Homo sapiens: one gene and its partners. The protein of the gene in region 2 purifies or fractionates together with the protein of the main gene of each other region. This does not show direct contact. Each region holds a gene or a part of one and is shown on either strand. Other genes may lie near its edges. The genes, in order: UPK3BL1, TMPRSS3, TMEM131L, DHRS7, GJA1, VRK2 and TOR3A.

Region 1 (4,830 bases), on a different chromosome or scaffold from region 2:
GGTACCTGGCCAACATGGCGAAACCCTGTCTCTACTAAAAATACAAAAAGTAGTCGGGTGTGGTGTCAGATGCCTGTAATTCCAGCTACTCGTTAGGCTGAGGCTGGAGAATCGCTTGAACCCGGGAGGCACAGGTTGCAGTGAGCCGAGATCACCCCACTGTACTCCAGCCTGGGTCACAGAGCAAGACTCCATCTCAAAAAACAAAACAAAAAAAAAAAAAAAAAAGAAGAAGAAGAAAAGGAAAAAAAAAAAAAAGAGAAGAAGGATAATTCATGTAATTCATGAAGGCCTCCCTAGCCCCTGCCTGCTGCTTCCTCTTCCCTTTGGCCAAGCAGGAGCAGGGGACCCAGGCATCCTGCTGGGGCCCTGGTGAGCCTCGTAGGAGCTGCCCCAGGCTCCGGCTTGGGTGCATGCGGGCAGGAGCCAGGGCCTGGCAGAGCTGCTCACCTGTAGGGGCCGGGTCCTGGTAGGGGATGGTTGCAGCCAATTTTTGTTGGTTGGCAGTGGGTATCATTGCCGACGCGGAGGACATGGAGCTGGCCTCTGGTCTGGTACAGCACCCGGTTGGCCCTCAGTGTGAGATAGTAGCCCCTCTGGGAGAAGTTGGCAGGAGCAGGGATGTCCTGGTTTGTCCGTGGGGCCGTGAAGCTCTGGGTGGCTAAGGGTGGCACCATGGTCAGACAGGTCACACAGCAGGATCCCACCCTCACCTTACCAAGCCTGACAGCCCTCCCCGGCCCCATCCCCTGCAGCACCTGCTCCCTGCATCTCCCTGCAACACACCCGCTACTGCCCTTAGGCCCGCAGGCCCATTTCACATAGGGAAAACCGAAGCCTGGCCCCAGCAGCACCCACCGTTGCTGAGGGCCACCACCAGCCAGATGGTATCCAAGTCAGAGATGTTGTGGCTGCTGAACTGGCCTAGAGGCTGCTCCAGCGTGAAGGTGGACAGGGTGAGCCTCCCCGCCAAGGTGTCGTTTGAGAGCTGGGGCACATAGCTGATGTGCTCTGGGGCAGCTGGAAGGGGAGGGCAGAGAGGAGAGTCCAAATGGGGCAACCAAGCCCCAACAGCTCTGGTCTCCCCCCGCCCAGATCCAGACTTAACATGGGAGCCCCAAGTTACGGGCACTTCCTGGGAGGTCAGGTCCGGTATGAACCAGGAAGCTTTCCCGGCAACTCTATGCCCCATGGGCATGGGTGGGAGGCCTGAGTCCAGCCCCTGGCCCCTCTCTTAGGAGCCTACTGGGGGTGGGCACTGTGGGAGGTCTAGGACAATGGTGGCATGGGAGGTCCCACCCTGGCGGTAGGCACAGTTCTCCTGGGCCGGGCCATGTTGGGATGGAACTGGAATTTGGGGGCAGCCTGACCCTAGGCTGAACTCTGTTCCTGACATGCCCAGTGACCTCCAACTTAAGTCCCTCCAGCTCCACCCACATGGTCTAGGTTGTTTTGCTTGATGAGAGGATGCGTGGCTTGGCAGGGGTCGGGGGGATGGCACAGGAAGGTCCTCTTGGCTGAGACCCCAGGCTGGGACACAGACTGCCCAGAGGGTCCGGGGGCTCTGGAGCCAGAGCTTGGTTCCGAGTGAGTCTAGAACGTCCTCTTCAACCTGCCTGGTTCTCTGCCGCCTCCCAACATGGCCCCGAGGCATCTTCGCCTTCAGGACCAGGTCCCCCTCTCAGACTCCCACCTCATCTCTCTGGGGAAGGGTGGGGGACGAGGACAAGCTTCCCAGGTCTGTACCCCAAAGGGGACTCAGGATTGGCAACTTGGCCTGTGTCCAGCCTTGCTGGTTGGAGAGCTCAGACCTCCCCAACCCCAAATACTGGTCTAGGAGAAGCAGAACGATGGAGTGGGTTTCTATGTGAGTCTCCAGCAGCTGCCCCTGTTCAGTTCAGTTCAGTTCAACTTCATTCATTTACGTTGAATTCAACTCAACTCCAAAGGTTCAGGCTAGAGTCTTCCTTGGGGAAGGATTGTCACGATTCCTTTCTTACAGCTCTCAGTCCTATCTCTGAAGCCCAGGGCACTCTGCGTGCAGGAGGCACGTAATGTTTAGAAAGAGAAGTGGAGGCCGGGCGCGGTGGCTCACGTCTGTAATCCCAGCACTTTGGGAGACTAAGGCGGGCATATCACGAGGTCAGGAGTTCGAGACCAGACTGGCCAATATGGTGAAACCCTGTTTCTACTAAAAATACAAAAATTAGCCAGACATAGTGGCGCACGGCTGTAATCTCAGCTACTCAGGAGGCTGAGGCAGGAGAATTGCTTGAACCCGAGAGGCGGAGGTTGTGGTGAGCTGAGATCGCGCCACTGTACTCCAGCCTGGGTGACAGTGGGAGACTCTGTCTCGAAAAAAAAAAAAAAAGAAAGAAAAAAAAGAAAAAGAAAAAGAAAAAGAGAAGCGGAGCAGTCAGAGATTGGGGTTGGGGGCAGAGATTGTAGGACTGTATCTCTCAGCCTGTCCAGTTTTTCTTTTCTTTTCTTTTTTGAGACAGGGTCTTGCTGTTTGGCCCAGGCTGGAGTGCAGTGGCGCATTCATAGTTCACTGCATGGGCTCAAGCCATCCTCCCGCCTCAGTCTCCCAAGTAGCTGGGATTACAGGTGCACTCCACCACACCCAGCTAATTAAAAACAAAAATCTTAAAAAAAAAAATCTTTTTGAAAAAAGGGGTCTTGTTATGTTGCCCAGGCTGGGCTTACCAGAGCTTCCTGGGGACATGCATTGTCCTGGACATCTGGAAACCTCTCCTCAGGGAAAGGAAGGAGGCAGGAGCCATGTGTGAGAATTTGGAAACAAAGTGAGGTCTTGGGTTTGTCCTGCAGCCTGAGATGCAGCGGGTACCCCTGTGCCAATCCCCACCCTTACTCACCCACGTCTGTCCCAGGCTGGACACGGGTCAGTAGCAGCAACAGCGACACTAGCAGCTGGGACTGTCCCGCAGAGAGCCCTATGGCCGGGCCAAGCCTCCAGCTGTTGTCCATCTGTCTGTCCGTCCGTCTGCAGTGTCTGCAGCCCCAGAGGCTCCCCTGTCTGTAGTCTGTGCTGTGCTAGGGGAAGCTGTTCCTGGCATCTCCTGCTGCCCCTCCCAGCTACCCCCTCCTCTCAAACAACTGGTTGGACAGGTTTGGGGGCAGAATCTGCCAGCCCAGTGAATCTGGCATCGCCAGGGAGGGGTCTGAAGAGAACATACAGTTGCAAGACAAGCCTGGACTACCCCCCCCACCCACCAGGAGCGCCTGACCAGGGAGGGGCTGAGGAAGGAGGCGGGGCAGCCTCAGGATCCAGGCTGCCCCAGGGACAATCCCGCTAAGTCTACCCCGTGGATCTCCTTGTCCAAACAGTCCCCAATGTAGCGACTCTTCCTTTAGGACCTGAGGTGGGAGGATCACTCGAGCCTGGGAGGTTGAGGCTGCAGTGAGCCAAGATGGCACCACTGCACTCCAGCCTGGATGACAGAGTGGGACCCTGCCTCAAAAAAAAAAAACAAAAAACAAAAAACAAAAAACCAACCTAGGAGGAGTTGGTGTCTGTTTTTGGTTCATAGGGAGTGCCGCTCAAGCAAACTCCCTGGAGTCTCTTTTATTTATTATTATTTTTTTTTGGGGGGGGCAGGGTCTCACTCTTTCGCCCAGGCTGGAGTGCAGTGGTGCGATCATAGCTCACTGTGGCCTTGACCTCCCAGGCTCAAGGTTCTCAGATTCTCAGGCCCCACCCTGGGGAAGGATGGAGGATGAGGACAAGCTTCCCAGGTCCACATGACAGAGGGACTCAGGATTGGCAATTTGGCCTGTGTCCAGCTTTGCTGCTCAGAGAGCTCAGATCCCCACCCTCAATTCACTCCCTTGTGTGGAAGGGAGTGACCCTCACTTTCTAGCACACACAGGGAAGAGGGCTTGGCTAAGAGCACCCAGGAGGTCAGGGCAGGACTGGGGATTAGATCACACCCAAATGCATCTCTGTGGCACTCCTGGTATAGCCCTGCTGTCCCCCTGTAGCCTGGCCCTGGGAGGGGGGCTCCCAGACTTCACACCCCCTCACCTCTTTATCCAGGGGACCGGCTGTCTCTTCCTCCTTCATCCCCAGCCTCTGTCAGGGCAGGGTAGTTCCTCCTCGAGACAGAAAATTACCAGATGGAAGTCCAGGCATGGTGGCTCACGCCTGTAATCCCAGCATTTTGAGAGGCCGAGGTGGGTGGATCACCTGAGGTCAGGAGTTCGAGACCAGCCTGGCCAACACGGCGAAACCCCATCTCTACTAAAAATACAAAATTAGCTGGACGTGGTGGCTTGTTCTTGTAACTCCAGCTACGCAGGAGGCTGAGGCAGGAGAACCACTTGAACCCAGGAGGCAGAGGTTGCAATGAGCCGAGATCGCACCACTGCATTCCAGCCTGGGCAACAAGAGTGAAACTCCCCCTCAAAAAAAAAAAAAAAAAAAAAAGATGAGATGGGGCTCAGGGCAGGTGGAGCGAGACCTGTGACCACCTCTCCCCTGGATCGGGGTGCTAGCCCCCGTCAGCCTGACCTTCACGCTCTAATTATGCCAGATGTCTTCATTCTGGGAAACCCAACAGATTATCACCTGTGGGCCCCATTTTTGGATGAAGAGGGACCATTCCCTGAAGGGGACATACCTCAGTTCCCCGAGGGGATTCAGATGTTCACCTCAACTCACAAGAAAAACTTCTGGCCGGGCGCAGTGGTTCACACCTGTAATCCCAGCACTTTGGGTGGCCAAGGTGGGCGGATCATCTGAGGTCAGAAGTTTGAGACCAGCCTGACCAATGTGGAAAAACCCCGTCTCTACTAAAGATACAAAATTAG
Region 2 (4,045 bases):
GCCAGGCATGGTGGCATGCACCTGTAATCCCAGCACTTTGGGAGGCCAAGGCAGGAGGATTGCTTGAGCCCAGGAGTTTGAGACCAGCCTGGGCAACATGGCAAGACCCTGTCTCTACAAAAAATTAAAAAAATTAGCCTGGGCCGGGTGCAGTGGTTCATGCCTGTAATCCCAGCACTTTGGGAGGCCGAGGCAAGTGGACCATTTGAGGTTCAGGAGTTTGAGACCAGCTTGGCCAATGTGGTGAGACCCTGTCTCTACTAAAAATACAAAAATTAGCCAGGCATGGTGGCGCACACCTGTAATCCCAGCTATTCAGGAGACTGAGGCTGTAGAATCACTTGAACCTAGGAGGCGGAGGTTGCAGTGAGCCGAGATCATGCCACTCCACTCCAGCTTGGGTGACAGAGCAAGGCTCCATCTCAAAACAAACAAACAAACAAACAAACAAACAAAAATTAGCCTGACATGGTGGTCCCAGCTACTCAGGAGGCTGGGGTGGGATTGCTTGAGCCCAGGAATTCTAAGCTGCAGTGAGCCGTGATCATGCCATCATACTCCATCCTGGGTGACAGAGTGAGACTTTGCGTTTAAAAAAACAAAACAAAACAAAAAAAAAGTGGAGATTTATTTCCACACGCAGTTGAGGTGTCTGTAGGGTGGTTTTCCTGGAGGCTCTGACCCCTTTCCTTTGGGTTCTGGTGGCGGCGGCTGCAGCTGCACTGGCATTCCTGGGCTTGTAGCTGGATCTCCAGCCTCAGCCTCCTTCCTCCCGTGGCTTTGCCCCCTGTGTCTCTGTATCTCAAACTTCCCTCTCCTGTGTCTTATAAGGACAGCAAGTCGTTGGATTTAGGGTCCACCCTAAACGCTGGGAGATCTTATGTTGAGATTCTTACCTTAATTACATCTGCAAAGACCCTGTTCCAAATAAGGTTGGGCTCCATAGTGGCAGGTAGGCATATTTTGGAGGGGCCCACAGTTCAACCTAACACAGGAATTTCAGTGTTTTCCACTCAACACCAATTACTTGAGCCCACCCCCAGCTGAAGGCACCCAGGAGCTAACCCGGATGCTTCGAGTCTGTGGGCCTACTTACCCCCCACCCACTGGCAGTGCTGCCCACCTGGCCGAGGGCACTCACAGCTCTCTGTAGTTTCCAACCCACCCACATGGCCCAGGCCCAGTTCTGTGCCAGTGTGGCTGGTCCAGGGCCTTTCTAGCTTCATCAGAACCAGCACCCCTGGTGTGTGGTGGGAGCTGGGACACCAATCTACGCTCCCCTTCCTCTCATGGTGGGCTCTCATTCCGGACCAACCAGCCCACCAGAGTCATTCTGATGACACTGGGCTCTGAAGAGGAGGCTGTGCAACAGCTTCATCCTCCCAGGAGATTCTCCATCCCGCTGCCGATTTTCTTCTCGCTGTCAATCTGCTCTGTCCAGTGCAAAAGGTCCGACGAGCCCCTGTCCTGATGTAGCTTCAGCTCCAGCCTGTCCTGGAATCTTCTCCCATAATGCATTGAGCTGTTTCGCCACGTTCCGGGCAGGAAGCTGAGTGTCTTGTGATACCATGTGCTCCTCAGAGCAGCCCCTCAGGGTCCTGTCATTGTGTGATTTTGTTGTCTCCATGGAATCTATGGAGTCTTTAAAACACCAAGATGCCTGGGTCACAAACCAGCTGAGTTGGAGGGGTCCATCCCTCGGTGTCGGGGGCGTGCTTGGCCCACTGCACGTGGATTAAGTCTCCTGTGACTGTTGCAACAAACGACCCCAAATTCGTGGCTTAAAATGACAGAAAGGTATCATCTCATAGTTAGGAAGGTCACAGGTCCAAACTCAGTCTCAGGGCGCTGGCGTCAAGTGTGGGCTGTGCTGGCTCCTCCTGGAGGCCCTTGGGGAATCTGTCTCCTGCCTTTCCCAGCGTCTGCACTCTGCCCACACTGCTTGGCTCGTGCCCCTCCTTGGTCTTCCGGGGCAGCAATGCCGCATCTTCGAATCTCTCTCTGACTCTCTGACTCTGGTCCCTGCTCTGTCGTCACAGCTTCTCCTCCGGCTCCTCCAAAGACCCCTGTGACTTCGTCAGGTCCACCCTCTTACTTGGGATCATCTCCCCACTCAAGGCCTGTCCCTCAATGCACCTGCAATGTCCCATTTGCCCTGTAAGGTGACACAGTCACAGGTTCTGGGGATTGGGGTGAGAATGTCTTTGGGGTCATTTTTCTGCTGACCATCCCAGAGTTCACAAAGACGCTGAGTGAGTGACCCTCCTGAGCCTCAGTTTCCCTCCCATAACCTGGGGTGTTCTGATGGCTGATTGGGCTGGTGCCCTGGGGAGGTGTCTTGGCCACTGTTGCCCCTACTCCTCCTCCTCTTTGGACACCTTAGGGGAGTCGGTGGCCCTGCCTTGAAGCAGACTGGCCCCTTGCGGCCACTCGTAGGAGGGCAAGCTCGGGCTTGAGGTGCTTCGAGACAGTGGGAGTCTGCTCGTCCCACCCGCAGGGCCCTGTCCTTTTCCGCTGTTGCGACACACCAGAGAGCATCCCCCTCGTCCCTCGTTCCCTCACCCCCCTGGTCTCAGCATGCGCCTTCTGTGTTTTGGGCCGGGCTTCCTTCTCACACACATCCCCTCACTCACTTTGAAGCAGGTGACGCCTCCCCTGTCCTGAACCACGCGGCCGTCCCTTTGATTTCCAACAAGATCTGCAACCACAGGGACGTGTACGGTGGCATCATCTCCCCCTCCATGCTCTGCGCGGGCTACCTGACGGGTGGCGTGGACAGCTGCCAGGTACGGGGCCGCAGCGGTGGGCGAGGCCGTGGCAGGGTGACCCAGCCCTTGGGACAGGTCGTTGCCAGCGTTTCCCTGTGACAGGACAAAAAGTAAATTTACAGGGCGTGGAGAAGAAATTTGCTCAAGATATCACTCCTTTTCCTGGCTGCCAGCCCTGTGTTTACCCAGTGATCTGGCTCTGCGTGGGTGCTGGGTGGTGGGAGGGGACTCATGCTGCTCCCCTCCAATTCTGACTTTGTGGGGGACCACAGGGGAGGCAGGTGGTGGGGAGGCAGGTGGCGGGGAACCAGTGAATCTGGCCCTCCGAAAGCTGCAGTGGCTGGGACTCCAGTTCTACTAGGTGGATCACAGGTCACCTGAGGGCCCTGGCCAGGTGGACCCTCCCTCTCACCAGCTGCCCTTGAGCTTCAGAGGGTCAGGGTCTGCATTCTGGAAGGGACACACAGCTGGAGGCAGCACCCCAAAGGGGCCGAGGGACATCCTCCCTTGGGGATGCTGTGTCTGGAAGGGCTGGTGGGTTCCCTTCTGTAACCTGGGTCATCCATTGGGACATCATGAAGGGGGGTCCCAACTCCATAGCAAGCAGCCTCACACGGCAGACTGTCCACAGAAAGCAATCTCGCATGGCGGTGACTGTCCCCCAATCTTTGCTTCTTTCCTGTCACCCAGGGGGACAGCGGGGGGCCCCTGGTGTGTCAAGAGAGGAGGCTGTGGAAGTTAGTGGGAGCGACCAGCTTTGGCATCGGCTGCGCAGAGGTGAACAAGCCTGGGGTGTACACCCGTGTCACCTCCTTCCTGGACTGGATCCACGAGCAGATGGAGGTGGGTGCGGCGCCCTCCCCAGCTCACGTTGTCCCTGGCTTTTGACCCTAAGGTCCCTTAAATGCAACCCTGGTCTTGCTATAAAAACCAGGGCGTGACCCAGTGGTTGTCAATTCAGCAGCAGTGACTTGGTGGCTCCAGGGTGTCAGACGCTTGTGCTGAAAACAGAGATCACAGCTAGTCCTGGGCAGCTCTGGGTGGGTGCAGCCTGGCAGGCAGAGGAGCTGGGGCCCGGGAGGAAGAAGGAGCCTCACGACATGGGAAAGGAGGAGGCAGCGAGGAGGAGCCCCTGCTGGGATGGGGATGGGTCGGGCGTGCCCCGTGTGCCAGGAGCAGGGAGAAAGTGGGAGGGGGCGGGGGGCTGAGACAGTGCGGGAGAGGACCTTGCCTGCCTGCTGAGGGGCTGGAACCTCGCTGGGAGCCAGGGATGAGAG
Region 3 (4,045 bases), on a different chromosome or scaffold from region 2:
AGTACTAAAAGTATTAGTCATCAAAGTTTCTTAGGAAGGATCCAAATTTAATAGCCAGTACAAAACCATCCCCAAAAAGTAATAATGTGCAGACTTTTAGAAAATCAGTAATGCCTTCTATGGGGCCAAGAATCAGGACAAACAATAAAATGAATGTTAACAACAAGTTCTGCAGTGACTCTGAGAAATTCTAACATGAAAGCATTCAAGAATATGGGATACCAAACACATACGTCATTTACAAATGGGGTCAATCCATGCAATATGGTTTGGTTCTGTGTCCCCACCCAAATCTCATGTCAAATTGTAATCCTCAATGTTGGAGGAGGGGCCTGGTGGGAGGTGACTGGATCATGGGGGCTGACTTCTCCCTGGCTGTTCTCATGATAGTGAGAGAGTTCTCACGAGATTTAGTTGTTTAAAAGTGTGTAGCACTTCCCCCTTCACTCTCTCTTCCTCCTGCTCCCACCATGCAAGACGTGCTTGCTTCCCCTTTACCCCTCCACCATAACTGTGTTTCCTAAGGTCTCCCCAGAAGCAGAAGCCTGTACAGCCCACAGAACTGTGAGCCAATTAAACCTCTTTATAAATTATCCAGTCTCTGGTATTTCTTTATGGCAGTGAAAAACAGCCTAATACACCAAGTCATCCTATTAAGTGTGCAACTTCCCCATGACCTCACTGAGTAAGAGTGTACCACAGTTAAAAATCAAAAACAAATGGAAAGAACACTAATAATAATAAAGGGGGCAGGAGAAGACGTTGGGAGGTGCACATGTTAATGCCCTTCACGGTGGTAATGGTTTCACGATGTACACTTATTCCCAAACTCATCAAGATGCATACATTAAGTATGTACAGCTTTATAGGTCAGTAATTCCTTTTAAAAGTGGTTAAAAAACAGAAACAAATGGAAGAACAAGACACAAGTGATCTCCTCAGTAACCTGCTTAAAGTTGTACTGTCTCAAATCTAATCACAATCACGTGGTCTGTTTTGAATAAACCATTAAATCTTCATTTCAAGTTAATAGTATCTGTAAGTAAATAGGAACATTTTTGGAATTTCTGCAAATACCAATAATTTCAGAAAGGTGAGGAATGTAATTCAGTGAAAACTTTCAGGTACTGTTAAGCTCAAGGCTTGAGCTATTATCAAATTTAATTATACCTTTACATTATTACAGGTAGAAACCCGTGAAATAATTTGCTCACTATTTCTCCTTGGTAGTGCTGCGGCCAACCATAGCTTGTCTTTAGCCATAACTCTAATCTACATTATTTTGATCAGACAGTGAAAATGGTTACAAACATTTAAAAAGAGCTATATTCACAAGATCATTTACATTACACATAAAGCCCCACTCTTGTCAGATGACCAAGAGGTTCTGGAACGTATAACGAATGTTTGACAAGTTTAACTGTTTGATAGTTGTTTGACAAGTTGATGCCAAAAAACAAGTGTAGAAAAACAGAGCCCTAAAGAATGTCAGCAGACTTTATTTCTATTGAGAATTTTAATTAATTATTTACTACAGGCCTCTCCGAAGCAGGCAGGGGAAATGGAGTAGAAAAGGGACACATTTTTTTTTTCATTTTTTGTTTTTGCTTTTATTTTTGAGACAGGGTCTCACTCATTGCCCAGGCTGGAGTGCGGTGGCACAATCACAGCTCACTGCAGCCTTGACCTCCTGGGTTCAAGTGATTCTCCCACCTCAGCCTCCCAAGTAGCTGGGACCACAGGCCCATGCTCATGTACCACCATGCCTGGCTACATTTGGCTACTATACATATACATATACTTCTTTGGGTAGAGATGGAGTTTCACCAGGTTGCCCAGGCTGGCCTGGAACTCCTGGGCTCAAGTGATCTGCCCATCACGGCCTCCCAAATATGACACATTTTCTATTACTTACAAAATATTATGTTTCTTGATGGCAAGTATGTAGTCAAAGCCATTCATACATACCCTAGAACATTTTCTTCTCACACAATAAGCTACACCCGGGGGTGGGGGGAAGCCTCAGAATAGGAGAAGGCAGATTATTCAGGTGCCTCCAGGAGTTCTGATAGTTAGGAAAATCACTTAAGGTATTCTTAAGAGGCGGGACTGTCCCCACCTTTCCCTTTTTCCCTTTAAAGGCAATCTTATGACTAGAATGGTTTCTACAGACCATTTGTATACTTTGGGAGAAATGGCTAAAATGTGGCAAACACACTGAGTGAGTTCCCATTCTGCTGGAATCCTAACTGCCAGTCACACAGGAGACAACGTGACTGGCACTTAGGATTCTCAGCTATCAGGCAGGTTGAGTCCAGCTCAAAGACCAAGCTGTTTTCTTCAGATTCTAGAAAAGATCTTACAATGGAAACAGCACACATTTCACAAAGTAAAATACTTTTCAAAGCTAGCAAAGAACTAATGCTCAAAGCTGGAAGTAAAAACTTAAAGGTTCTTATATATATGCTTTTCTCATTCTCAAGCATTCTTTGCACTTGTGACTTACCTGTCAATTATACGCGTTTATCATTTGCCAAGTTATTGCAATGCTTTCCTCTGAAATTCAACAGAGCCCCAAACCCTTAATATTACTAAAAAAACTCCAAACCCTCCCTTCAGACTATAATTATCTTTCCCTAGATTTTTCAGTCCTTTCTTATTTTTAATATTTAAAATTCTTGAACAATTTTAAATTGTACATGGATAGCAGGCAATTTATTCACTTTTTAACATCTCGGATATTTTCCCAGGACAGTGCTGTGAACATAAAACAGTCAGAACAAAATGCATGTCCATGTACAAACTTCCCTGGGAGGAATCTCCTGCTAACATATAACTTCTGCAGACACGTAGAGGACTGTGAATTAGCACCTCTGAATTTGCTGGTCTGAACATGGTGGAAAGCAAAAGTTCTTTCCTCAGCTCTTACTTGATCTGATCAACAATCACTCTGGTACCACTTAACATGCTGCTGATCCAGCCAAACAGTATTTTTAAATTCTGGCAGTGAAAGATTTGTTGCCATTTAAAACATTATAAGCATACTAGTAATCTGTACAGGAAGGAAAGATTCTGGGCAGGTTTACCATCTACAATGATACAGGCAAACTCTATGTTTCCAGACTCCCATATTAAATTTACTCACGCTTATTAAAGTGTTATTACCTGCTCATCTTGGCTCAGCTATTGGCATTGAATGTCAAGTACTAGACAGGAGGATCCTGAAGAAGAATTCAAATCCTCTGACCTACTCTGACACTACATTTCTCATCCATGCCTTTATATTTCAACTGCTTTAAAGTATTAAGATATAGAAGGTCCCTCCCATCCATCTACCACACTGCCACGGGCATTGCATCTTGCAGGCACATATCTCTTGTGGGCACAAGCGATCACAGAAGAAGCACTTCTGGAGGGAGGATTCCCTCAACTCTAATTTCAAGTGTGTGCAAAGTCATCCTATGTCAAAGACTGTGCTCAAGCCTAAAAGACTCACGTAACAGGGGAAATGTCCAACAGGACTCACTCCATAATTCACCTTTTCACAAATGTTTTGTATTCTAGACCCCAGAGAGTGTCTGGGAGAGAAACAGAATAAGACACCCAATCACCCCATCATAATACATCCACAGACAAGGTATGCCATGGTTTGATTTGAAGATCTGGGTGAACTGCATTACCAGGGGGCATACTCACACGCCAGGTGGAGGAGACAGGGCACAGTGTCCACCCTGCAGACATAAGTCCACTTCAGGCGTGTGCACCACTGCCAGGGGAAACGGTACAAACGGGTTGGACTAAATGCACCAAGAATGCATGTGTGCAGCTGCCTAGACCACATTCCCCTCAGAGGACTCCAACTTTCTTTTAAATTAGAAATGTCCTTATACAGAACATTTAAAATTCAGTTGAGGATTTTCACCAAATGCATAAAAGCTCATCAGAAGTAGTCAATCCATAATATTTCTGTACCTCTTCTCCAATATCAAGAAGTGAAAAAGATGAAGTTATATTTAGATGCTTCAAATAAGACAAAAGGTGACTG
Region 4 (4,045 bases), on a different chromosome or scaffold from region 2:
AGAATGACAGGTAGAGAGATGGCCCAAAAAATGGTCTGTTGGAAAATTCAAAATTATCTCAGTTTAGGTACTATTAATAAATGTTCCATGAAAAATAATAACTTTATACTTGAAGTTGCTTTCAATGTGAACATAATGGCTGGGTGCGGTGGCTCACACCTGTAATCCCAGCATTTTGGGAGGCCGAGGCAGGCAGATCACCTGAGGTCAGGAGGTCGAGACCAGCATGGCCAACATGGTGAAACCCCGTCTCCATTAAAAATACAAAAATTAGCTGGGTGTGGTGGTGCACGTCTGTGGCCCCAGCTACTCAGGAGGCTGAGGTACAAGAATCGCTTGAACCTGTGAGGCGGAAGTTGCAATGAGCCAAGATCACACCATTGTACTCCAGCCTGGGCAACAAAGTGAGACTTCATCTCAAAAAGAAAAAAGTAAACATAACTACACCAAAATTCAAACAAAAATATTAACACTGTTGCCCTTTATGTGAATATGAAAGTATTACCTCAAGTTGTATTTTTTAAAGCTAATTCCATTCCTGTTCTTTTATCCTATATAATAAGTCTTATCCCATATGATTTTAATATCTGATACTTTAATAAAATGAGTAAGGATTCTTCCTAATTTCTATGATCAGATACATGTATGTCATGGATAAGAACCCAACTGTTTTTTCTCTAAGACAAAAATCTAAGATACTTGGTCACTAAAAATCCACCAGCATTTTATATAATTGTTGGTCACTCCCTAATGCCAAGAGTCAGTGCAAAAAAAGCATAGAAAGGTGGCAGAAAAGAAGAAAAAGGCGAGGGCAGCCAATTAAGGCAAAAAGGAGAGGAACTGAGATGAAGCATGTAGAACATTTGGAGCCGGGGGGAAATCTCACTCCTCTCTAAAAGTCCCAAAACTGTATTTGAGTTTGGACTGATTTATTTCTAGGAAGCACCGCTGCTATTTCAGATCCGCTTACCTAGGCATCTTCTTTTCACCCTTTCCAGCTCATGCACTCTTCTGGCTGACAGCACAAGAGAAACTCCTAGTTTAGACAACTGGTAAGCCAGCTCCTCACCAATTCCACTCGAGGCTCCAGTCACCCACACCACCATATCAGTCAGCTCCCATTCTATGGAAGGAATGTAAATGGAAGGAAGAAAATAAGCAATGAATTACGCTCATAAATCCAAGATTAGAAAAAAAAAAGAAAGCCTTAAACAATACCACTAAATATGAAGGCATGATGTATAGAGTTAAAATTTGAAATATTCTAAGAAAGCATCTCCTTCTTAACTAAAAAAAAAAAAAAGCATTAATACAAATCATACTAGTAACAGTTATCAACACAGTATTTGTATATTACAGAACCTTCATGACTTTTCCAGACTTTACTTCAAGGTAAGCCTTATAACCTCATGGTTTCACTCTAAGGCTCTATTTAACACAAACAGGTAAGATAAATATGATAGATAAGATAAACAGGCTAAGTAAATACAAAAATCACTGTCTGGACTCACTTTTCCTTAGCCATTAAATGAGGCATTCAGATTAGATGATGGCTGAAGGTCACATCCAGTTTTTAATTCTATTATTCTAATATTTTGCAATGGAGGTTGATGAAGAATCTAAATATACCAAGTTCTGTGCTGTTGATGGAAACATCCTAGATTTTTAAAGTAGTATTTTCCCCATTTGCCAATAATGCCTGATGCCTATCAGCTCAAGGTCATTTTGTAAAAATGTTCCCCAGATGCCTGAGCTTTCATCTTAGGAGAATATAGTAATTCACCCAAGAACAAATGCATATTACAGAGAGATGAAATATTGTACTCTGCTTCTCCAATTATGTTCCTCTTAAAAGACTACAAATGTTACAGTACTAAAGCAATGACAAATGGTTTATTCTTTTCTCCAATGAAAAACTTATTAGCACTTCAGGAGATGATATTCACTGTCTCTCTGAACCCGTAAAGTCACTGTTATGCAAAGTTCCTGGGTGACTTATTTACTAAAATATATGTTATTTATCAAAAATATCAAATATCGTATCACTTAACATCACATTTCCGATTTTAGATCAGAAAAGTTAAAATCAGGAAATGATTGTACTGTTTTAAACAGCTCTAAATCCTAACTGTGATGTTAACAGTACCATCCCTGGAGACTGCCAGGGTTCAAATGCCAGCTCCATCACACACAGCACTGAAATGCTCCCAGGTGAGAACTTGGTGCCTTAATTTTCCACAACTGGAAATGTGATGAATAAGAACACATCCTTCACAGGATTGTTGAGAAATGAGTTAAAACATGGAAAGCACTCAGGGCAGTATCTAGTACATACTCAGTGTTTAATAAACGTCAATTATAATTATTGCTCAAGTTTTTTAACAGATGGACTTTACTACAGCAAAACATAGAACAGTCACTTAATAACGTATGTCTCCTAACTTCTCCAGCCAGGAAAACAGAGTTACCAATTCTAATGGCTTAACGTTTTTACATTACTTCCTATGTACTTAGCACATTGTCTACTAAAAGCCTCACCAGAACTGTATGGAAAGGTATTATTATCTCAGTTTTACAGAAAAGGTAACTGAGGTTTACAGAGATTAATTTGTCCCACTAGACCATAGATTCCATTAAGGGTAGGACCCTGTCTACCTTGTTCATTGCTGTGGCCTCAGTGCTTAGCAAAGACTGGAATATTGAAAAGGCTCCATAAATAACTACTGAATAAACACCCAAGAACCCTGGCAGAGCCGGGATATAAGCCCAGGTATATCTAGCTCCAAAGCCCACACTGTCCACTATTTCATGATATACACATTTACATATGATCAATATTTTAAAACCCAACTGTTTCTTAGACATTCAAGAAAATACCACTTGTCCTTAAGAAAAAGGTTCCATGTAAATATCTCAACTAAGGCCAGGTACGGTGGCTCACATCTGTAATCCCAGCACTTTGGGAGGCCAAGGCGGGCAGATCACTTGAGGCCAGGAGTTCGAGACCAGCCTGGCCAACATGATGGAACCTGTTCTCTATGAAAAATACAAAAATTAGCCAGGTGTGGTGGCGCATCGTTGTAACCCCAACTACTCAGGAGGCTGAGGTGCAAGAATTGCTTGAACCTGGGAGGCAGAGGTTGCAGTGAGCCAAGATTGCTCCACTGCACTCCAGCATGGGTGACAGAGTGAGACTCTGTCGGAAAAAAAAAAAAAAAAAAAAAAATCTCAACTAAGGATGGAAACATCCCAAATACTATGTCTGGGCTACAATGCTTTCCTGTCATATAACGTACTTTTGTGAAAAGGCACAATTGGGCCACCTTCCTATAGGACTTTATCAAGAACAACATAACATCTATTCAGATAATCATTTATTCATTCATTGACTACTTGTTGTTCCCAAGTTCTGCAATCATCACACTCTAGAGTGAATATCATTTGTTTTAGAAACACAGGATTTACTAACTAGTGTCGAGCTAACAAAGACCTCTTGATATTTACACACATAAGCAAATATTTAAAGCTGATGGTGTAAACTTTTAATACAATCACAATTCTGGCCTCTTCCTCCCACCCTGAAGAAACTTTTTTATTTAGCACCGTTTGTTTCCCGATTCCACAGAATCTGGTATACATAATGGCCTCCCTTTAAGAGCCCCTGAAAGTAGATTCTTAAGAGTTGAAAGGAAAGTGATAGTTCAACCCCCACTCCAGTTTGAGAATTCTCTTCTCAAGCCCTTGACCCATCTCTAATTCCCTCACAGGATGAGGAAGCTAATTATCTCTGAAGGCTTCAGCTCCTTTTTTGGGAAAGTCTAATCATTCCAGGGATCTTTTTTATACTGATATGATAAGCTTTTAAATGCTATCAACCAGTAGCAGTGGGCAGTAATCCTGCCTTGTGGTTTGACAAAGAAGAAATCAAACTTCTGGTGTCGGTGGGTCCAAGTGTCCAGCCTGAGGCATCCTCCCCATCCCTTCCTCTCCCAGCACCTCAAACATTCATCAAGGATTTTGTATCCAAGGCCCAAAAGTTTGTTAC
Region 5 (3,500 bases), on a different chromosome or scaffold from region 2:
TCCAGCATCTTTTTATGATTGAAAGAAAAGAGAAGGTGAAGGACTTTAATATCTGAAAGAATAAAATCAGAGTCTAAACCTACATAAGGAAATGTCTATGGAAGTTCCCGATAAAATCATTTAATGGATTTTTTGGGAGGAAAGGGAAATCATGTGTGTGTCTAATGTACTAACACCCAAAAATATTCATGCCCAAAAACTCAAATGCAAACCCTTGTAATGTTTTCTTTCACTTTTATAATAACCTCTGCCCCTCCAGTAAATGTCATTGAGTGAACTCAGTTGTCTATTCCTCCGCACTTAAAACAGCCACCCTTAGCTTGATCTCAGCCATCATCAGTTTGCTAGGTTTCATGTCATTAGCCTGGTCACCCTACTTGCCAACCTATACTCCGAGTAATCAGTCAATCTTGAGAAAACAAACCAACAATCAGCTTGGTTTGATGAGCTCTGCTCCATCCACGCAGCTCACGTCCTCACTTGTTGCAGGTCTCACCTCATCAGCCAACTTTCCTGACCACCAAATATGAAATAGCAACATCCTTTCCCCAGTCCTGTCATTTCCTATTCCCTTTGCCCTGGTTTTTAAAAAATTATTATTTTAATAGACTTTCTCTCTACTTGATATAGTAAATATTTGCCTGATTACTATGTACCTCCTTCCATGAGAAGGATTTATTATTTGTCTTCCTTAACTGGAATGTGAACAATACGAGGGAGTTTGCTTTGTTCACTGCTGTATCCCCAGTGCTTGAAAGAGTAAGAGATGTGGCTCACACCTGTAATTCCAGCACTTTGGGAGGCCGAGGTGGGAGGATCATCTGAGGTCAAGAGTTTGAGATCAGCCTGGCCAACATAGTGAAATCCCATCTCTACTAAAAACACAAAAAAGTAGACCGGGTGCGGTGGCTTAAGCCTGTAGTCCCAGCACTTTGGGAGGCCGAGGCGGGCGGATCACGAGGTTAGGAGATAGAGACCATCCTGGCTAACACAGTGAAACCCCGTCTCTACTAAAAATAAAAAAAATACAAAAAAATTAGCCGGGCGTGGTGGCGGGCACCTGTAGTCCCAGCTACTCGGGAGGCTGAGGCAGGAGAATGGCGTGAACCCGGGAGGCGGAGCTTGCAGTGAGCCGGGATCGCGCCACTGCACTCCAGCCTGGGCGACAGAGCGAGACTCCGTCTCAAAGAAAAAAACGACAAACAACAACAACAACAACAACAACAACAACAAAAAAGTAGCCAGGCGTGGTGGCGGGTGCCTGTAATCCCAGCTACTCTGGAGGCTGAGGCAGGAGAATTGCTTGAACCCGGGAGGCGGAGGCTGCAGTGAGCAGAGATCACACCACTGCACTCCAACCCGGGTGATAGAGTGAAACTCCGTCTCAAAAAAAGAAAAGAAAAGAAAAGAATTAATTAATTGGGGTATAGCTACATGTTAAATGAATTAAATGGGGCTTCCACAAAAAATAGAAAGATACTGTGCAAAAAAAAAAAAAAAGTTTGTTTTTTTCTGTCTCTTTGGGATTCTCTTAATTGTAGTTATATCTCAAATTTCTAAAGTTTCAAATTAATTAAAAAGGAAACTTCACAGTAAAAAACTATTGTCATCATCTCATTCTCATACTGTTAAATTTTCAAGTGACAATTGCTGAAACAGAGAACTGTTTGTTGAAACAACATGCTTCAAATGATTCCTGAGCAGGCAAAAGAGCTAAATTAAGAAAAAAGGCTCTTTGCAACCCCCACTGCTAAATTTGACAGGCTTAAAAGAAAAAAGAAAAAAGGCTTTTTAACAAAGAGCTTCCTGAATTTGTTAAATGAGATCCTAATGAGGGTTAGGATTCTTGTAGAACTGCATCAGGTATCATGCTTGTACATTCAGTTCACTGTTAGGTTGTTGCAGGTTAAGATTTAAAACACAAAACAAAAAAAAAAAGGAAAAAACACAACTGTGTGGTTGTCCCCTAGTTCTACGATGTTCTAACTCCGATTGCACCACACAATTTTATTGTAGACAAGGACACTATTACAAGAAGAAATAGCCTGTTTAAAATCGTGTTTATTTCAAGAATGATAAATATCGGGGAAGGCTAGGGCTCTGAAGGGGAAGAGCAGCAGTTGATATTAACCCTGGTTAATGTAACATCTTTACAGTCTGAGTCTATGCAGGCACTAAAGTGATTAGATTCAAGTACCATGGAAAAGATTCCCAGTTCATCAGATAATACCCAACCTTTACTTCCTTATTTATACCTAGATGGCCTAACTATAGTGTATCAAACTTACTGTATGTAAAAATATATTTATAAATAATTGCACATTTGTGTAGGTATTTGATGTTGTGAACTGCTTATTTTGGGGGCAGAGGGGAGGACAACATAAAAACACCAACAAGCCTTCCTTCCCCAGCTCTTACCCCTCCTCATCACTGAACTTACATTAGCATCCACTTAATGAGATGAGATGGGAATTGAGGTGTGAGGAACTCCATCCAAAGAGAGGATGGTGCATCCCATAAAAGACAATCCTCTCCCTAGTTCAACAGCTACTACTCAATTCTCCCCCAAAACAAGTTTCTCAAGATCAATTTAGGGCTACCAGAGAGAAAATCCCAAGTCAGAAGCTGAGGCTAAAAGCCATGTTCTTCAATTGTGATGTAACTTAATATATTTCTATCAGTCCTTGGCGTTTCCTCTGCCCCTACTCTTACTTCCACCTCCAAATTGACTATTTTTAGTGAATAGCCTTGTTATTTTATAATCATATAAAGACACCCTTAGGGCCCTCACAAGTGTATTGATTAAGATAGTCTATTTTTTTCAATGAGAATTTAATAAATAACTCATGCATGTGATGCTCTTAGTAACAGCTCAGTAAAGTTTGGTTCTTACTCTTTAGACGACCTTTAGATATAGCTCATTTGGTTTTAAATTTTTCATCTTTTCTTTAGCAAAACAGCAACTAAGAAATGATTGACAAACATACATTTTCTTTTTAAAATTTTTTTTTATAGAGGTGGGGTCTTGCTATGTTGCTCAGGCTGGTTTTAAACTCCTGGCCCCAAGCGATCCTCCCACCTCAGCCTCTCAAAGGGCTAGGATTACAGGCATGAGCCATCATGCCCAGCTGACGATAAACATATATTTTTCTTAAAATATTATTTTAAAAGCATAGGGAAATTGGAATGTGAAATTTATGAAATTGTATAAGCCACTGATGTATTAAAAAAAAAGAGCTAACCACAGTTTGAAAATAGGTAAAAGACAATCTGTACATACATAGTTAAAAGGTGACTTTAGATGGAGGTTTAGACAATTATGCTAAGAATTTAAAAAATATATACATTAATCTCCCATGGAAGAGATGCTCTGGAGATTTTTTAAAACTTGAATTATCCATACAGAATATTACATTAATAATAAACACTAGATAATTACTTTTTCTCTCCAGAGTTGAACTGGTGTGTGCGGATAAGCTCCCACACATCTCTTCAAATAA
Region 6 (4,045 bases), on a different chromosome or scaffold from region 2:
AGAAATCTGCATTTTATAAATAATAGTATGGATTCAATAAAATGGTTTGTGCTAAGAAACAAAAACTGGGCTTGTCTCCCATCTAGATTACTCATCTGACTCAAATCTTTAACAATAGAGTATGACATAATATACACTGCCCACAAGCATTTGTCTTGTACAATTCAGGGCATCTGGGCTTTCTTACCCTAAACTGAACAGTTCCTTTTTCTGCAGGATTGACAAGAAAGGTAAGAGATATATATACAAACACATATATATCATATATATCATATATATGATATATATGTATCATATGATATATATGTATCATATATGAGATATATATGTATCATATATGATATATATGATATATGATATATATAAACACATGATATATATGATATATGATATATACACATATATGATATATGTTATATATATGATATATACACATATATATGTTATATATGATATATGATATATACACATATATATTATATATGATATATATACACATATGAGATATATATAATATATATGATATATACACATATATATGATATATAATATATGATATATATACACATATATGATATATAATATATATGATATATACACATATATGATATATATATGATATATATACACATATATATGATATAATATATGATATATATACACATATATATGATATAATATATATGATATATATACACACATATATGATATATATACACATATATATGATATATATACACATATATATGATATATATATATGTTAATGACATCTTCCCATCTTTCTGTCCAGTTGATTAAAAGATGAACTATACAACTTGGTAAAAGTGCCAATAAGGGCCAGGCGCAGTGGCCCACACCTGTAATCCCAGCACTTTGGGAGGGCAAGGTGGGGGGGATCACGAGGTCAGGAGTTTGAGACCAGGCCTGGCCAATATGGTGAAACCCTGTCTCTACTAAAAATACAAAAAGTAGCTGGGCATCGTGGCACGTGTCTGTAGTCACAGCTACTTGGGAAGCTGAGGCAGAAGAATCGCTTGAACCTAGGAAGGGGAGGTTGCACTGAGCCGAGATCGTGCCACTGCACTCCAGCCTGGGTGACAGAGCGAGACTCTGTCTCAAAAAAAAAAAAAATGCCATTAAGAATATTAGCCATAAAGGAGTACTGCCATTTTGACCAAGTTATTGACAATTATGAAAACAAAAATTTCATCTTGCAACCCATTCCCACAATGAGGATCTCTCCTGTGTGGCTCCCTCAATCCGATGAAAAGTACTAGAGAAAGGGGAAAACAAAAGACTCATGTGGGGATAGGCTTATTGGACTTGCAAATGGAGAGGGGAAGTAGAACTGGCTTATTCTTTCCTTTCCTCCACAAATGAAAATTTTGGTTTCCAGTGAAAGAAAGGCTGTGAATGTAAGTTTAAGATGACTTAACTCTCTAATTCTCAACCAGATGGAAACAGATGCTATTAGACCTTAGCTAGAGAGGTCAGTGTACATATCTACTTTCAGAAGTCAGCTCAAAGCTAACTTTGAGATTGTCCAGTGTAAACAGAAAACAAGATTCACTCTGATTATCTGTCTCTGAAAAAAAGCAAGACTGATAGTGGGCACTGGCTTTTTCGTATAAGACAGTCTAACTCAATTGTTAAATTAGTGTTGAATAACATGTTGTGTATGCACATAAAATGACAGGAATGTGGGTAATTACTAGTTGACGTGCTATTTTATACAATATGTATTGATAACATTGTCAATTAAAAATTCCATTGTATACTAACTTGAAAATATGAAATATACCTCCAAATCCCAAAATCATATGCCTTTGCTAATAAAAATTTTTTTTTGCTGGCAGTTCAGTCAGCATAATTCTGGTCTAAACAGCATTCAGTGTTTACTGATTTGGTTTTTTAAATGACTGATGAAAAGTAGTTTTTCCTTAGGTCAACTTTATCTTCTTTCAACAATATATAGAGGAACAAAACCAGGAAGTCTTAACTCTAGAAATACCAGATACGGTTGACTATTAAGCCTGTGCATGATTCTCAAAATAGAGATCTTAAAAAAAAAAAAAAAAGCACTAAGCAGAACCTAGAATTTTCCACCTCAATATCTTCTTTTGAGGTTTTTTGTGTTCTAATGTTAAAGATGATTTAAACATTGTGTTCTTTAGCAACTTATTTGCAACATGAAGAGTTCCCTCCTTCCCACCCTGATGGGAATAGGAGCAAGTGGGTTAAGCAAAAGCTACCAAACGATAACGACAAATGTGGCAACCTGTAAATCGTAAGAGAAGGTTGAAGTTATTATTTGACTTACAGCAACTGCTTCCAGAAGGAGCCCATTTAAGCACTGACTGGGGGAGCTCGTCCAACAGACTAAAACAAAATAAGGTAATGCACAATGAACATGTTTTCAACCCTGTGATTATTTTGACTAGAAAACAAAACACTCTATGTGTTGGTAGGTCACCAAAATTGTGACTTTCAATGCTTTTTTTTTTGTCACCCAACTATAATGGATAGGAAAGTAAGCAGAAGTAGAGGAGAACCCTCAATGCCCACAAACTAATTTTATATCAATAACCTAGACTAACGTAGGGGCAGAAAGGTGTGATCTCTTTTCTCACCCACCATAAGGGTTGCAGCCAACATTCCTATAACAAAAGACCAGTTAACAGGAGAAAGTATAACAAATTTATTTAATTAAAGTTTTATATGACACGACTTGAGAAATGAAGACCAAAGACCCAAGGAAGTCTATCTTTATGCTTAGGTTTGATGAAGAATAGACAGCTGTGTAGGAATGTGACTGGACAAAAGGGTATGTTCTAATGGTACTGAACTGGGGCGGGGGGATCCAGCAAAGCCTGTCCATATTCTTTTTTTTTTTTTTTTTTTTGAGACGGAGTCTCGCTCTGTCGCCCAGGCCGGACTGCGGACTGCAGTGGCGCAATCTCGGCTCACTGCAAGCTCCGCTTCCCGGGTTCACGCCATTCTCCTGCCTCAGCCTCCCGAGTAGCTGGGACTACAGGCGCCCGCCACCGCGCCCGGCTAATTTTTTGTATTTTTAGTAGAGACGGGGTTTCACCTTGTTAGCCAGGATGGTCTCGATCTCCTGACCTCATGATCCACCCGCCTCGGCCTCCCAAAGTGCTGGGATTACAGGCGTGAGCCACCGCGCCCGGCCCCATATTCTTGATGTATGTAGCATTTATTCCTCCTGGGGATGGGGCAGGACCCCTTTGGAATGAGGGTCTTAAAGGGAGAAGGGAGAGGGTGACCTTCCTAAGTTTAATGCCTTGCTTGGGGTACAGGGGTTCTAGTTTCTATAACCCGCTTTGGGGAAGAGGAATTCTGGTTTCTATGACTCTCTTCTTGGGAGGAGAAGGGATGGGAAACAAGAGGGCAGGAGAAGGTCAGAGTGAGACTTGGCTTCTGAGGTGGCTTCTGGGGCCATCCAGTCTCTTTCAGTTCAAAGGTCTCAGCATGCCAAAGCATCACACTTTGGGGTATTGCTCTCTGGGCCCCAATACTAAACAAGATGGAATTACAGGAATTATAATATAAATGCTTTAACTCAAAGTTTATGTATGCAGAAACACAGAAGTAGTAATATTTACCATGATTTTTTTTCTCAAAAACAACAATAAAAAATTCACGCAAACATTGTATCTAAGTATATATGTGCATTGTTCTCCACTGGGCAATATTTTATGCTGTCCCATGATTAAACAGGTTTGTGGGATGCTCAACTGGTAAGTATAATGCAAATATTCCAAAATCTAAAAATATCTGAAATCTGCAACACTTCTGGTCCCAAGCCTTTCAAGTAAGGAATACACAACCTATAAAAACATTCAACTAAAATTATTTATATGTGTGAGTGAGTCACCACCTCTGGCATAGGCAGAGTAGCAACAATACACACATTGATCCAGCAGCATGCTATGTCAGGAAAATAAAAGGCATAAGGGAGATACAGTGTCTTGGCTGAATATACAATCACACCCTTATGGGGAATTTCAGTGTCATACCTTCTC
Region 7 (4,045 bases), on a different chromosome or scaffold from region 2:
CTCAATGTTTTATCATAGACCTTGACCTCCCAAGGCTCCAGAATACCTGCTCTGGGCTGGCTTAAGGTGTTCAACCAATTGATCCTGGATTTGGAATGCTCACCCACAGCTGGCCGCACACCCTGCCTGTCTGCACTGTGGCTCCTGGTAGCGCCATCTCCAAATCCTACAACCTCACGTCTGACAGGAGGAAGTTAGACCTAGCAGAAGGCTTTGCACACTGGAGCTGCTCTCACCAAGTGTTGGCTGAATTGAATGAGAATGAATAAAATCAGGCTTCTCCATAAAACAGGGAGCCCTGAAACCAAGGGATGGGAGCAGCCTCAGGACATGGGGGACAGGGTTCCTCCCTAGACAGGTCTGTGCCAACTGTTCTGGGTATCTGCAGGATCTTTAGGAAGGGTGATTCCACTCTCCCTGAGTCCCATCTTGATTTCCCAAACTCTTCAAAAAGTAGTCCTTGAGGCTGGGCGCAATGGCTCACGCCTGTAATCCCAGCACTTTGGGAGGCCGAGGTGGGCGGATCTCGAGGTCAGGAGTTCAAGACCAGCCTAGCCAACCTGGTGAAACCCGTCTCTACTAAAAATACAAAAATTAGCTGGGTATGGTGGTGGGCACCTGTAATCCCAGCCACTCGGGAGGCTGAGGCAGGAGAATCGCTTGAACCAGGGAGGCGGAGGTTGCAGTGAGCTGAGATTGCGCCACTGCACTCCAGCCTGGTGACAGAGCAAGACTCCATCTCAAAAAAAAAAAAAAAAAGAAAGTAGTCCTTGAATCCCTTCTGCTACAAAGTCTGCCCTCTGGCTTCTTATTCTAAGGCCAAACAGGAGGAGTAACTGATTCCACCCGAGAGAGATTCAGAGTTGCTTGGTTTCTTGGCTGTTGGCTGTTGTGGTGGATGGGCCTGTGTGTGCCTTTTGCTGTGACTACCTCTTTCCTGTCCTTAGGCTTAGAGTGGGACCTGAATGTGCGGCTGCATGGCCAGCATTTGGTCCAGCAGCTGGTCCTAAGAACAGTGAGGGGCTACTTAGAGACGCCCCAGCCAGAAAAGGCCCTTGCTCTGTCGTTCCACGGCTGGTCTGGCACAGGCAAGAACTTCGTGGCACGGATGCTGGTGGAGAACCTGTATCGGGACGGGCTGATGAGTGACTGTGTCAGGATGTTCATCGCCACGTTCCACTTTCCTCACCCCAAATATGTGGACCTGTACAAGGTGAGGCCGACCAGGGCTGGGGTGAGGCCTCTGTGCTGGGAGGGAGACCCTTCTGCCAGCCCTTCCTTGCAAGGAAATGGGCTCTGGAGAAGCCTGGGGAGGTGGGGACAGGTGGCAGAACCTGTGACAGAGCCACTCCGTCCACTCCTCACAGAGGCCCTTAGCATGTGGAAGAGACTGGCGTTCCAAACACCACCCCCTGCTCTGTCCCCAAACAGCCACACTCGAGAGGCTGGACACTGCGCTTAAGCAGGGACGCTGCATGTTGATTTTTGTTGTAGAAGTAGTGAAATGTCACAGACTGCAGTGTAGAACAGAGAAAAGCAAAAACTGTCAGACTCTCCACACGGACACACCCTTGTCAGCTAAGGAGAGGTAGCATTTTATGTGCTGCCTTTGGTGCGGAACCTTTCCCCAGGCTCTTTGTCATTGTAACTACGTTGGACAGAAAGTTGTATATCCTGCCTTTTTAAAATTTAAACAGGCCTATTGGCCGGACATGGTGGCTCACGCCTGTAATCCCAGCACTTTGGGAAGCCTAGGTGGGTGGATCACGAGGTCAGGAGATCGAGACCATCCTGGCTAACACGGTGAAACCCCGTCTCTACTAAAAATACAAAAACTTAGCTGGGCGTGGTGGCGGGCACCTGTAGTCTCAGCTACTCGGGAGGCTGAGGCCGGAGAATGGCGTGAACCCGGGAGGCGGAGCTTGCAGTGAGCCGAGATCGTGCCGCTGCACTCCAGCCTGGGCAACAGAGCAAGACTCCATCTCAAAAAAAAAAAAAAAAAAGAAAACAGGCCTATCCTATCTTACCTGATTTTTTCATGTCTTCCCGTATCAGCTTATTATATACCAGCAAGTGGATGGACAGAAATTTCCTTGGCTGTTCTGCCATTTTGGGTTTCTTCTACTAATTCAGCCATGTAGTATTGAAAACATACCAGAAGAGCCTGACAGAATTGACTGCACCTGTCTTTGGCTTTGTTTTAATATTTGGAATGTGTTCACCTGGGAAGATTATGTCAGCGTCTGAGGACAGAGGCTGCCCGCGTCTCCTGGCAGTTTCCATATGGCTTTGGAGGGCAGGGGCAGGCTGAGCTGGGCCTTTCCGGGCAGAACTGTCTGGCTTAGACTGTGGCAAGACTGCTGCAGCCCCAGCTTCCCTGCTGTGAAAACTGGCATGTGCATAGCCCTGCACCTCACACTTTCCCCCACAAAGGTGCACCCAGTAGACAGGGAGTGTGGGCTCTGGAGTGGGAGCTGGCCCTGAATAATATATTCCCTGCCCATTTCGATGAACATTGCAAAGAACCATCTTTTCACTTGAGGGTTTACTGTCTTGCCTGGGGCAAGGAACCCTCCACAGCTTGCAGGAGCCAAGTTGGATGTTGGTTAGGCCCAGTCAGTCCTTCAGCAGGCTTGCTCCCCTGAGATCTCGGCCCAGCCAGGGTGCCAGTGGGCGCTCTGCACCCGGGAGTTCAGGGCAGGGGACTGTGGCTGCCTCTGGGCACATGAGCCTCTCTTTGCCCATCACCCCTGTATGAAAGCTCAACTCCTATCCACCCCCTGGGAATAGACCCTGAGCTTAAACAGGGAAGTTGCGCCTGGATGTTTTTGTTGTAGAAGTAATGAAAGTTTGCGGGTGTGTGGACATTGTTAGCTCCTGGATGGGATGTAGTCCTGGAGAGGAGAGAGCAGGGCTGGAGCAGGGGCCCCTTCTCAAGGGCAGAAGGGCTTCTCCCCACTCCTTTCTAGGCTGTCTCCTAGTCCCCAAGCTGGCTTCACCTTGTTTAGCTTTCAACCCTCAGGGTGCTTGAGAATCACCTGGGAGCTGGTCAGATGCAAATGTCCTAGGCCCTCCCCAAGAGCTTGGATTTGATAGGTTCTGGCGGGGGGCGGGGGGTGGGGAACCCAGCCCCAGGGGGTCCATTGCACATGCCCAGGGGAAACCACGCCCTCAAGGCCGGAGGTGGAAGGAGTCACCACTTCCCCAGCTGCTCCCTATATCCCGTGCAGGAGCAGCTGATGAGCCAGATCCGGGAGACGCAGCAGCTCTGCCACCAGACCCTGTTCATCTTCGATGAAGCGGAGAAGCTGCACCCAGGGCTGCTGGAGGTCCTTGGGCCACACTTAGAACGCCGGGCCCCTGAGGGCCACAGGGCTGAGTCTCCATGGACTATCTTTCTGTTTCTCAGGTGGGTTCTGGGGAACAATAGTCAGGAGGGCTGGGGGAGGGGAAGATACTAGCTGGCAGTGGAGGCTTCCACACGCCCCCAGGTTCAGAACCTTTCCTCAAGAAAAAACAGCACAAACTCTGGTACAGAAAGCAGCAGCCAGCTGTGGTAGCTCACGCCTGTAATCCCAGCACTTTGGGAGGCCAAGGCGGCCGGGTCCCTTGAGTCCAGGAGTTCAAGACCAGCCTGGGCAACATAGTGAAACCCCATCTCTACAAAAAATATAAAAATTAGCTGGGCGTGGTGACATGTGCCTGTAGTCCCAGCTACTCGGGAGGCTGAGGTGGGAGAATCGCTTGAACCCAGGAGGTGGGGGTTGCAGTGAGCTGAGATCGGGCCACTGCACTCCAATCTGGGTGACAGATTTTTTGAAACAAATTCCCAAGGCAAGCCTGGTTAGAGAACGGCATAGTCTCCCATCAAGTCCAACACGGCCATTTCTTCCTTCAGCCTTGGAAGTCTGTTTCTTCTCCGATTATGAGAAGTCATCACTGGCTTAAAATCCAGGGTATACGGGTTGAGAAACCCATGCTTCCTCTGAGTACCTGTAGTTCAGTTGTGACGCTACCATGCGGGACCCAGTCACTGAATCACTGC

What was found.
Region 1: the proteins of TMPRSS3 (region 2) and UPK3BL1 purify together in Homo sapiens (affinity purification with mass spectrometry; 2 studies listed by BioGRID and IntAct, with this or other methods). This does not show direct contact.
Region 3: the proteins of TMPRSS3 (region 2) and TMEM131L purify together in Homo sapiens (affinity purification with mass spectrometry; one large-scale study listed by BioGRID and IntAct). This does not show direct contact.
Region 4: the proteins of TMPRSS3 (region 2) and DHRS7 purify together in Homo sapiens (affinity purification with mass spectrometry; 2 studies listed by BioGRID and IntAct, with this or other methods). This does not show direct contact.
Region 5: the proteins of TMPRSS3 (region 2) and GJA1 purify together in Homo sapiens (affinity purification with mass spectrometry; 2 studies listed by BioGRID and IntAct, with this or other methods). This does not show direct contact.
Region 6: the proteins of TMPRSS3 (region 2) and VRK2 purify together in Homo sapiens (affinity purification with mass spectrometry; 2 studies listed by BioGRID and IntAct, with this or other methods). This does not show direct contact.
Region 7: the proteins of TMPRSS3 (region 2) and TOR3A purify together in Homo sapiens (affinity purification with mass spectrometry; 2 studies listed by BioGRID and IntAct, with this or other methods). This does not show direct contact.

Annotation. Positions count from the first base shown.
Region 1 is NC_000007.14:102,639,754-102,644,583, forward strand, and holds the start of UPK3BL1 (uroplakin-3b-like protein 1 precursor), read right to left. Parts: upstream 3,039-4,830; 5' UTR 2,989-3,038; coding exon 2,877-2,988; intron 1,021-2,876; coding exon 859-1,020; intron 662-858; coding exon 451-661; intron 1-450.
Region 2 is NC_000021.9:42,375,282-42,379,326, reverse strand, and holds part of TMPRSS3 (transmembrane protease serine 3), read left to right. Parts: intron 1-2,640; coding exon of another isoform or gene 2,641-2,643; coding exon 2,644-2,786; intron 2,787-3,458; coding exon 3,459-3,611; intron 3,612-4,045. UniProt on the Homo sapiens protein: Probable serine protease that plays a role in hearing. Acts as a permissive factor for cochlear hair cell survival and activation at the onset of hearing and is required for saccular hair cell survival. Activates ENaC (in vitro).
Region 3 is NC_000004.12:153,605,693-153,609,737, reverse strand, and holds part of TMEM131L (transmembrane protein 131-like isoform 1 precursor), read right to left. Parts: intron 1-4,045.
Region 4 is NC_000014.9:60,155,030-60,159,074, forward strand, and holds part of DHRS7 (dehydrogenase/reductase SDR family member 7 isoform 1 precursor), read right to left. Parts: intron 1,124-4,045; coding exon 971-1,123; intron 1-970. UniProt on the Homo sapiens protein: NADPH-dependent oxidoreductase which catalyzes the reduction of a variety of compounds bearing carbonyl groups including steroids, retinoids and xenobiotics.
Region 5 is NC_000006.12:121,438,646-121,442,145, reverse strand, and holds part of GJA1 (gap junction alpha-1 protein), read right to left. Parts: intron 1-3,500. UniProt on the Homo sapiens protein: Gap junction protein that acts as a regulator of bladder capacity. A gap junction consists of a cluster of closely packed pairs of transmembrane channels, the connexons, through which materials of low MW diffuse from one cell to a neighboring cell.
Region 6 is NC_000002.12:58,133,477-58,137,521, reverse strand, and holds part of VRK2 (serine/threonine-protein kinase VRK2), read right to left. Parts: intron 2,382-4,045; coding exon 2,323-2,381; intron 1-2,322. UniProt on the Homo sapiens protein: Serine/threonine kinase that regulates several signal transduction pathways.
Region 7 is NC_000001.11:179,084,681-179,088,725, forward strand, and holds part of TOR3A (torsin-3A precursor), read left to right. Parts: intron 1-947; coding exon 948-1,213; intron 1,214-3,230; coding exon 3,231-3,409; intron 3,410-4,045.